Regions from separate parts of the Homo sapiens genome. Here region 1 is linked to region 2. Evidence: fine-mapped expression QTL. A gene starts in region 2. The other region holds a variant in brackets. All regions are shown on one strand. Distances are between the middles of the regions. Region 1 holds the start of LOC124909437 (a long non-coding RNA gene). Region 2 holds the start of TF (transferrin).

What was found.
Region 1: its variant is fine-mapped to the expression of TF in fetal neocortex (Walker 2019, PIP 0.90).

The regions. Positions count from the first base shown.
Region 1 is chr3:133,597,483-133,602,859 of GRCh38, forward strand. It overlaps TOPBP1 (DNA topoisomerase II binding protein 1), which reads right to left. Exons shown (of 28, transcript NM_007027.4): 28 at 2,756-3,911. The coding sequence ends at 3,768. LOC124909437 (a long non-coding RNA gene) reads right to left here and starts at 1,595. Exons shown (of 2, transcript XR_007096110.1): 1 at 1,074-1,595; 2 at 693-980. The variant C/CT (reference allele first, on the strand shown) is at 2,755.
Region 2 is chr3:133,743,140-133,748,516 of GRCh38, forward strand. It overlaps TF (transferrin), which reads left to right and starts at 3,254. Exons shown (of 17, transcript NM_001063.4): 1 at 3,254-3,344; 2 at 5,273-5,377. The coding sequence starts at 3,302.

The sequences.
Region 1 (5,377 bases), 150 kb before region 2:
CCAGCACTTTGAGAGGCTGAGGCGGGCAGATCACTTGAGGTCAGAAGTTTGAGACCAGCCTGGCCAACATGGCGAAACCCCATCTCTACAAAAATAGAAAAGTTAGCTGGGCGTGGTGGCACACGTCTGTAATCCCAGCTACTCAGGAGGCTGAGGCAGGAGCATGGCTTGAACCCAGGAGGCAGAGGTTGCAGTGAGCTGAGATCATGCCACTGTACTCCAGCCTGGGCAACAAGAGCGAGGCTCCGTCTCAAAAGAAAAAAAAAATTGAGCTGGGTGCCTTGCTTGTTGACAGATCTAGATTTTAAAATCTTTTTAGGGATAGAAAATAAGGAACAGTCAACTATGGCCCACTGCTTATTTTTGCATGGCCTCAAGCTAGTAATGATTTTTATGTCTTGAAAGGTCAGAAGGAAACCAAGCCCTGATACAAAGCAGCCTGTATTAAAGCACTTCTAGGTGAGAGGTGTAAATGTGAAATAATAGGTTTGCATTAGAGCAGTGGTTTGTGACTTTTGGGTGGAAAGTCACAGATCCAAACTCTAGAATTATGAACTCTACCCTAAAAATGCTCATATACAAAACAGCCTGTTCCATTCCCAGGCATCTCAGGCCCCAAAGTAAGAACCTTATTACTGTTAATATTGTTACTGGTCTGCTCAGGCTGCCACAAAGGAACATCACAAGCTGAGTGGCTTAAACAGAAATTTATTTTCTCACAGTTCTGGAGATTGGAAATCCAAAATCCAGGAGACGGCCAGGGTTGGTATCTGGTGAGACATTTCTTCCTGGTGTGTAAACAGATAGCTGCCCTCCCCGTGTCCTCACAGGGCTTTTCCTCCGTGCCGGCAAACTCCTGGTGTGCCTCCCTCTTCTTACCAGGACACTAGTCCTGGTGGGTTAGGGACTCATTCTTATGACCTCATTTAATCCCCTTATAAAGGCTCTGTCTACAGTCACATAGCAGGTTAGGCTTTAACCTGTGAATTTTAGGGGGACAAGCTCAGTCCTTAACAGTGTAAATACTAAATCTGAGTATAATTGAGTACTGTATTTACAGTAAGGATTCCTACCTCTTCAAGTGCTAAGGGACCATGTGTTCCAGGTGGTTTGTTGCTGAATCCTAGGCACAGGTTGAGGATTCCTACCTGTTGAATTAACGAATGTTGGTGAGATCAGACTAATGCACAGGAAAATTCGTGGAGGGATATAAGGTGATAATTTAAATATCACAGATTAAAATATCGTAGCCATTCAGAAAAGAAACTCATACTAATCTAATCAAGGCAAGTTCTGCCCCCTCCCCTTTTTAAACAAGAAGACTACCTATGCTTGGAATTATTTGTATATAAGAGGATATTGTTGCTGGCATTAGGACATTTACAGATTAACAGCCAAAGCCAGAGTTCAAGTGGCTTATACAGAGTATGGGCAGATGCTGGAAAGTTAGGAGGAGAAACTGAGACCTGGAGCCTTAAATGGTAAACTGTGTGTCTAAGTTTGAACTGGAAAACCATTCATAATTTTGGCAGAAAAGAAAGTGGTATATTAGGTAATTTAAAAAGTAACTATTTCAAAGAATTTTTTTTTTTTTTTTTTTTGAGATGGAGTCTCACTCTGTCACCCAGGCTAGAGTGCAGTGGTGCGATCTCGGCTCACTGCAACCTCCACCTCCTGGTTCAAGTGATTCTCCTGCCTCAGCCTCCCATGTAGCTGGGATTACAGGCACGTGCCGGCACACCTGGCTAATTTTGGTATTTTTAGTAGAGATGGAGTTTCGTCATGTTGGCCAGGCTGGTCTCGAACTCCTGACCTAAAGTAATCTGCCCACCTTGGCCTCCCAAAGTGCTGGGATTACAAGTGTGAGCCACTGTGCCTGGCCTATTTCAAAGGATTCTGAGTAATAAAATTCAGGGAAACGTACTACAATCTACAAAATGATTCAGCTAAAATAAAATAGCTCTGATAAAGACAGGCCCATGTGGTTTTTGTTTGGTGGGAGGGGGACAGTTTACATCATAATGCTACCTATTTCTCTGTGTAGAATTTGTATTGTCCTAAGCTGTGAACTAGCTCAAAGCTGAAAACCCTGTAGGACCAATCCTCTAGCAGCAGGGATACCCTCAACTCCATTTTGAAGAAAATCTGATGAAAATTTAAGGGATTTTGTGTCCAAGTTGAGCACTCTCTCCTTCACTGTTTGAATCTGCCTTTCAAAAAGTCATTTGGAATTGAACGGTTTACATCAAAATTACATTCCTAACGGATTCTAGTTTGTCCTTAAAATGAAATTAGGTGTATTTATAGAGAATTCTGGTAACGCATGTAGTATTAGGTGTTTAGGTTTAGCATAATAAAGGCTAATGCAATACAGAGTTCCAATAACAGTATGTTTTAATCTAATAGGGCAATATTCTAAATAACAAATATCAGAAATGTTAAGCAATTCATTTATTTTTTTTGAGACAGGGTCTCATTCTGTCACCCAGGCTGGAGTTGCAGTGGCATGATTTCAGCTCACTGCAACCTCTGCCTCCTGAGTTCAAGTAATTCTCATGCCTCAGCCTCCCAAGTAGCTGGGACTACAAGCATCAAACAGCATGCCCGGCTAATTTTTTGCTATTTTTTGCAGAGATGGGGTTTCGCCATGTTGTCCAGGCTGGTCTTGAACTTCTGGGTTCAAGCAGTCCACCCACCTTGGCCTCCCAAAGTGGTGGGATTACAAGCATGAGCCACCGTGCCTGGCCTGCAATT[C/CT]TTTTTTTTTTTTTTTTTGAGATGGAGTTTCGCTCTTGTTGCCCAGGCTGGAGTGCAATGGCGCGATCTCAGCTCACCGCAACCTCCGCCTCCCGGGTTCAAGCGATTCTCCTGCCTCAGCCTCCTGAGTAGCTGGGATTACAGGCATGTGCCACCACACTGGGCTAATTTTTTGTATTTTTAGTACAGATGAGGTTTCTCCATGTTGGTCAGGCTGGTCTCAAACTCCCGACCTCAGACGATCCGCCTGCCTCAGCCTCCCAAAGTGCTGGGATTACAGGCACGAGCCACCGCACCCAGGCCCCTGCAATTCATTTTTTACGTTACATAAATGTTTTGTTGCTTCAACAGAAGAACAGATGCCAGGGTGCTCTTTTAAAAAATTTATCTATGTAAACACATCTTAATACTAATTTGAGTTACTACTTTTATTCTTTATTGTCACATTTTCCAAGTTTTGCGCATTCAAACTTGGCAAACATCATGGAGATTTGTACAAACATACATATACATATATACACACATATTTATAGCCCCAGCTTCCTCATTAAACCTTGTGCTCAGGCTCCTGTTAAAAGAGGTAAAATGGTGAGAAGATAAAAATCAGGGAAAACATGAATAAATGCTGACTGACAAATCTTGTTGTTATGAATTTGTAAGGCAGACATTTTAAAGCAAAATCCATTACCTTGCTAAAATTTCCACTAAGCTACAGCTTCAGATATTTACAAGAAAAATAAATATCTTTTAACAGACTTCAATGTGGTTTAACAGCAAGCTAGCTGAGGAGTTGTATTTTGTTGTTATTTCAGGTAACTTTTTATTAAGAAACAGTTAATATTTCAGTGATTACAATTTCAGGTGTTCAAAACTCAAGAAGGGTCATCATTATACTCTGAAGCAGAATTCTTCAGGTACTCATCTTTAAATTACTACCCAAATCTATCACAGTCACATTCAGGCTTTCAATTTTTAAAAACATTTAATGTTTGGTAACTAAAGGGTAGATGCGATTAGTGTACTCTAGGTCGTTTGATTTTATTTTTTTCTGTAGGAGCTTTCCTCTTTTGTGATAATCCAGTCCCAAGTTCCTTATTATTCTGAATAAATGAAATAGCTTCTGGTAGACAGTAATTTTCTACATGAGGAGGTGATTCCTATAAAAGGAAAAATAAGTGATTTTTTAAAATGATTTCAAACATTTACGTGATCTGGTAATAGATTTTTTCTTTAAATCTCAGACCTCTCAGGGATGAATCTGACAAACTTAAAGGAAAACGCATATTCATTCCTAGGTTCCAGCAAATTAAACAAAATGGACCCTGTGGGACAAAGTCTCACCTTTTATCAAAGAAATACGTGTATGGTTCAGGTAGAGTGGGACTAGCTCAGATCTTACAAACATTTCATATCGGTGTTTTTAATCCCCATTTTTGAGATAAAATAAAAAAGGTTAAATGAAAACAACCAATGTCACATAACTAGCAGGTAGCAAAGCCAAATTTCATAACTGATCTGACTCCAAAACCCTTGCATTTTCCCCCCACAACCATTTCCCAACATAGAAATGGATCTTTTCCTCCTTATTATAAGTGTAATAAAACTTAATTTTCTAGCAATATGGCAGACTGGGCAACCTGAAAATGAATCACCACAAAATACCAAGTAAGTGCCTTTTGATTCAATTCTTCCATGGATAACAGCTACAAATTCTGACCAAAATATATTAAAAGCAACCATAGAGCCTGGAGAATAAACGAACCAAGCAAATGGGGGGCTGGGGACGCAAACACAGTGTATGAAGTAAACTGCCTGTTAAACAACACAGTACTCTTTGGAGGAGCAAAGGAACAATAGAACCTAGAGTTTCTTTTTTAGGGGGAGATAAGGGTCTTGCTGTGTTGCCCAGGCTGGTGGCTGGTCTCAAAAATGACACATTGAATACAAGGGAACAATTCAAATGACCATCACTGATTTCTCAACAGAAACAATGGAGGCCAGCAGACAGTGAAGTCTTTAATAGAAGAAAAAAACCTGTCAATCTATAATTCTGTATCCTGCAAAACTGTCCTTCAACAATGAAGGTAGAATAGACATTTCATACAACAGAAAGCTAGAATTGATCCCCAATCAACCTGCACTCCAAACTAAAGTTAGTTCTTCAGGCTGAAGGAAAATGTTATCAGATGGAAACTCAGATCTTCAGGGAAAACTGACACTCAAACTGGTATACATGAGGGTAATTATAAAATACCATTTTTTATTTTAGTTTCCTCAAAATGCACAGAATTGTTAAAAGCAAAACCTATTTAAAGTAAAATCTTATTTGGGGCTATAAGATGTAGATGTAAAATATATGACAACTACTGCATAAAGCAGAGGTCAGCACACTTTCTGTAAAGGCTCAGACAGAAACATTTTAGATTTTGTGGGATAGATGATTTGTGCTGAAACTACTTAACTCTGCCATTATAGTGCAAAAGCAGCCATAGAAAATACATAAATGAATGAGTATGGCTGTTTTCCAACAAACCTTTATTTATAAAATAGGCAGTGGGCCAGGTTTGGCCAGGTGGCTATAGTTTACTGACCCCTGGTATAAAGGACAGGGGAAGCAAATGAA
Region 2 (5,377 bases):
CATGAATAAGGACCCATCATTTGACTGTAATGACCACATGTGATAAATGGAGGTACTGATCTTATCTTGCATGGCTGCCCCAATGATCTTGCCCCAGGACAGTGCCTGACACATACAAGGGGATAAAAACATGATATTTTCTTCCAGCTGAGCATAATCAAGCCAGTCCATGTCTAAGGATCTGCAGTTGGTACTCAGACCTCTCCCAGACTGACCAGCCCCTGTGCTGGCAAAGCCCTGGGGGCTGTGTGCTTTTGGAGAAATGGCAAGGCTGGGAGTCTCATGTCTGTCCCTCTCTCGGTGTGACCCCAGATGAGCTCCTTGGCCCCTGCATGTCCTGGTTTCCTGGGAGAGGCAGTGTCCCTGGTGGATGTGTACACTCTGGAACCAGACTGCCTTCTTTTGTATTCTGACTTTGCAGCTGACCTTGAACAAGATATCATCCTCTCTTGTCCTCAGTTTCCTTGTCTCATCTGTAAGATACAGATGCTAAAGCACCAAAGTCAGAGGGGTATGGTAAGTGCTCAGTGAAGCTCCCAGTAAATCTCAGCCATCATTAAGCTATTAAAAGGGACAGTGATTCTCCAACTCCAGAACATCTCTGGTATAGAATTAAAGAATATAAATGAGAGCACAGGTACAAGTGTCATGGACATGGAGCGCTGTAATGTTAACCTCTTACCTTCACATGCTCCTATAGACATATACAGGCATAGGCACCCCATACAGCTAGGGCCATGCACACATGTACACCCCAAAGCTGGCCTCACCCCTGCCTACCCCATCCAAGGAATGGCAAGCACGAAGCTCTGCTGTTGTCCTCTTGAGCAAAAGCCAAGGCCCTGGCCTCTCCATCTAGGTGTGTGTAGATGACGTGGGAGCACCAGTTCTCTATGTCTTGTCTGAGCTTCCTTCATATCCCATGAGGCTGTATATTTCCTTCCCAGCACCTGTCTTGGGCTTGGACTCAAAGGACCCTTCTGAGGACAGGGCATAGAGCTGGCTGCTCTGGAGAGGACTCAGCCTGGCCAGTAGGTAGTTGCTCCCTGCTGAGGGGCTCTGGCTAGGCTATGGGCCTGTGGCTGGAGGACTGGCCTCAGCGGGGCTTAGTCTACGAATGTAGATGGGCTCCAGAAAAGGAGAATCACTGACCATCTTCTTTCCATGCCCTGCGTTGAGCTTCCCTGAGTTTGTGGCATGGGCTCAACCTTTCGTAACTGCACTTCCTGCTCTCTGGCAGACCCTGCAAGCTTACTACAGGGCCTGTCCATGCATCAGCTGTATGTGTGCATGCTGCTCTGCTGGGTGCCTTCCAGTTAGCCTTGCCCCTGACTTTTCCTGCTCATCTCACATCCTTACCTCAAGGTCTCCAAATGAATCCAGACCACTGCCTAGAGCCTGCTGCAGGGGCAGTAGGAATATGGCCCTCATGCTAACAGTCTTCTTTCCCTATGGCTCAAGCACAAGGGGCCCGTGGACGGGCAAGGGGGGAGTAAGACAGGGCAGCAGTGGTCACTCTCCCTCGCTGGTGAGGCTGATGTGTTGGGAAAGCCAGACTTGACTTCTGTCCTCACTGTAAACAGAAAGCTTCTGTAGTGGACTCTAAAGTGGGAGGTATGTAACCCCTTTGCATATGAGATAATCTTTTGGAGTGTGGGAGAACATAATCTAACTTCCAGTTATATTTATTGTTATTGCAAAAGATTAACAAATTATCATTCATTCATATTGAATGTGTGAATTGGCCCTATCTCCCACCTGAGTCTGCAGTCATGACAGATGGAGCCTTTCAGGTGTCCTAAGGGAAGATGGGGTTCACCTCACAATGCTAAAGGTGAAAAGGGGAGTGCCGACCCTGCCCTTTGTTTTGGCATTTTTATTTCCATACTTTGTGGTTTGTATGTGCCCAGTTAAACGGATGTACAGATTAGATAATCTGGCTTTAACTCCAACCTTCACGAGATGCACACATGCCTTAAAAAGATTCTTACAAAGAAACTAGAATTAGGAGACAATTCTGACAACACAAAAACAAGTGAACAAAAATCAAATGACTGACCTGACGTGTCCACTAGGCTTGATATGAGCTTGGTCAACTAAAACATGAGACAGAATGAATGACCATCTGGTCAGGTTGGATAAGAAGTAACTTTTGGCAAAATCTCTGAAGTCTGGATTTACACTTCGTGGAAGGAATCTTGACCTTTCCCCAAGTATATTATGCCTTGAGATAATAATCCTGTATAAGGCCGCATAAGCAAAACGACATTTGAAAATGAGTTTCATCTTTAGCTCATCCTTTTACAAATTTCTATTCCTTGTGCATGATTGAAGTGTACACATTTTTTAGTTAAAATATAAGCATATAGAAGGCACAAGTTCAATATTTTTCATGATAAGGATGTGTAATTAAACTGGTTAGGAGACTCATCGACTAGAGGGGGACATGGTGGCCCCAGGCTGTAAGAACAGGCCACACCGTCCACTGGGCCGCTTGCTTTGTGCTAAGATGACACTTTGTTCTGAGCCTCACAGTGTCTTGACCATGTTCCTGGAACCTTCTTGTTGGAGGGAGTTCATCTTCCCCTATGACTCTGTCCCTAGTCTAAGGTGTCCCACAGGAAGCTTGAGGGCGGGAAGTTTTCCAGCCCAGGAGCCTGAGCTCAGCGGGGCAGGAAGAGGGAGCAGCTCCTCCGTGGGGGACCTTTGAGAGCCCAGGAGCAGGATTTCGAGGGACACCTGGTGGGGAGCAAAAGGTGCTGAGTCTGTCTTTGACCTTGAGCCCAGCTTGTTTCTCCTGCATCCTCCCCCAAAAGGGGCTTTGCCTGTCATTCTGCAGTTCTAGTGTGGGGTCTGGGCGCAGTTCTTTTCCCTCTCCAGCCTCGGAGTCTTCCTCTGTGGACTGCGCAGATAGGACTGGTGGCACGGACCAGCTCTGCAGCCCTGGAGTCAGGAGCAGAGCCCCCCGGCTCCCAGCCCGCCGTAGCCGCTCCTGGCACCGAGCGAGCCGCGATGACAATGGCTGCATTGTGCTTCATGTCCCTTCCCATCAACATTTCTGTGCTGGACTCCTTCCACTCGCGGGTCGTCTCCAGAGCTCAGAAAATGAGGTGATCAGTGGGACGAGTAAGGAAGGGGGGTTGGGAGAGGGGCGATTGGGCAACCCGGCTGCACAAACACGGGAGGTCAAAGATTGCGCCCAGCCCGCCCAGGCCGGGAATGGAATAAAGGGACGCGGGGCGCCGGAGGCTGCACAGAAGCGAGTCCGACTGTGCTCGCTGCTCAGCGCCGCACCCGGAAGATGAGGCTCGCCGTGGGAGCCCTGCTGGTCTGCGCCGTCCTGGGTGAGTGCGGGCACGGGGTAGCACCGCAGAGTCGCTGGCCCGCGCGTTCCCTGCAACCCGGGCGGCCACCGCGCAGCCTGCATGCACTCCGCGCTCAGGCTGGAAGCCTGGGTGTCTGGGTGCCTTTCCATTGCCTCTCTACGCCCCACCCCTGGCCTTTGCTTGGGCTTCTAGACACCTTTCACTGCACTCACTGTCTTCTCCCCCTCCTCCTCTTTGTCCAGTAAATCTTGCAGCAGTGAAATACAATAAATCAGAGCACGTCTAACCAGGTTATCAAAACCCTTTGCTGCTGCCTCTTGTCAAGTCCGAACTCCTTAGCATGGCATTCAAGGCCTCCCGGGTCTGACCATTCCCCTTTCAGAGGCTGATGTCCCCTGGGTGCCCTGGGAGCTGTAGATGTCCTGCCAAGGAAGCGGTGCCATCGAGCGGTCAGAGCATGGGGTTTGAAGCCAGACTTCTTGGATCCAAGTCCTGGCCGGCTCCTCACCAGGGAGGGGGTCATCACAGCACTTGCCTGGGAGGGTCAAATGAGGGTCAGCGAGGTGGCAGATGCTGAGTACCAGTGGCAGATGTTGCACACATCCTGCTATGGGGCAGTGGCTGACGCCACACTCCCCGACCTCCTGAGGTGGGGCCCCCTTCATACTCTAACTTCTGCCTGCCATTCATGGGGCATTTGTCACACTGTTGGGGCTTCCACGTTTAGTTTTCTCTCCCCATAAGCTAGCAATTCCTTGAGAGAGGACCCCACGTTACTTGCCTTTATCCCCGCACAGAGCACTTCACAGGCTGTGCAAGGTAATGCTCCACTGAGGACACATTCTCGCCTATGGGAACTCTGGAGGCAGGGCTTTGTGGAGGGGCTGCCACAGGCTTATGTTGCCTCCTAGGATTTCCCATGGGCCAAGAGGGAAAATGGGGGTCGCTGGGGTGGCCATCCCTGGTGGCCCCTCCTCATGCATCCTGGAGAGCTGTGGGCCTCCTCTCCACAGGCTTTGTGGATCTTCTTCAGAGCCAGTGAGTCAGCCTTGCTGTGGTGGCCCACAAGGAGTGGAGATGACAGAGGGCCTTGGGGACAGGGCAAAAGCTCATGTGATAGGGATGCTGTCTCTGCAACCACATGGATTTTAATAGTTACCCATGGCTGGCTTCAGCTTTTTTTGTGAATGGCAGCCAAAAAGTGTGGTGAAAATGGAGGGATAGTTCAGTGGAGACAGAGGGGAGACTGTTGAATTTGTGGAGTTTTTAGTTCTTCCTAAACAGAGAGCAACAGACAAGAGTTACAGACAAATTAATTCTTTTCGTTAATTTACCCTCAACTACTGGCCAAGAAGGGGTGTAACTCAGAATGTTTTCTTCTTTTGTGCCCTGAGTAGCAGACCCAGAGTCTGGAGACCCAGATTCTAGGCCTGGCTTGGCCAACGACAAGCAGGGTGACCTTGGGTTAAAAAAAAAAAAAGGCATCATTCTCTGAGTCTCACTCCCTCTTCTCAAAAAGATGGCAATTCCTCCCCCGCTGGTTTTCCATAGTTGAGGTAGCAAGCCAATGTGTTGGGGTAGCTGAAAACGCCCTGTGCATACTGAGGCTTATGTTCCATGGGGGGCCAGGGGCCAGGACAGTGATGGGAGGAGACAAGGCGGATACAGAGGAGCAGATTGTCATCTCCAGCTGGGAGGTGATGGCCATGCCTGCACCCCTCTGGCCAGCAGAGGGTGGTCAGTAGGAAACTGGGAGGCCATTAGGGCAACCTTCTATTGGCTCAGACTCAGAATGCAGTAGAACTTGTGCCCTGTAGTGTTCATGGACAGGAGTGAGAGGAGGACAGGACTGAGGGGATGTGGCTGTCAAGGCCTTTCTAGGGGCGATGCTGTCTCTCCCTCAGCATAGGGAGTGGGCCCTTCCACCTCTGGCCTCTCTCCCCCAGGGCTGTGTCTGGCTGTCCCTGATAAAACTGTGAGATGGTGTGCAGTGTCGGAGCATGAGGCCACTAAGTGCCAGAGTTTCCGCGACCATATGAAAAGCGTCATTC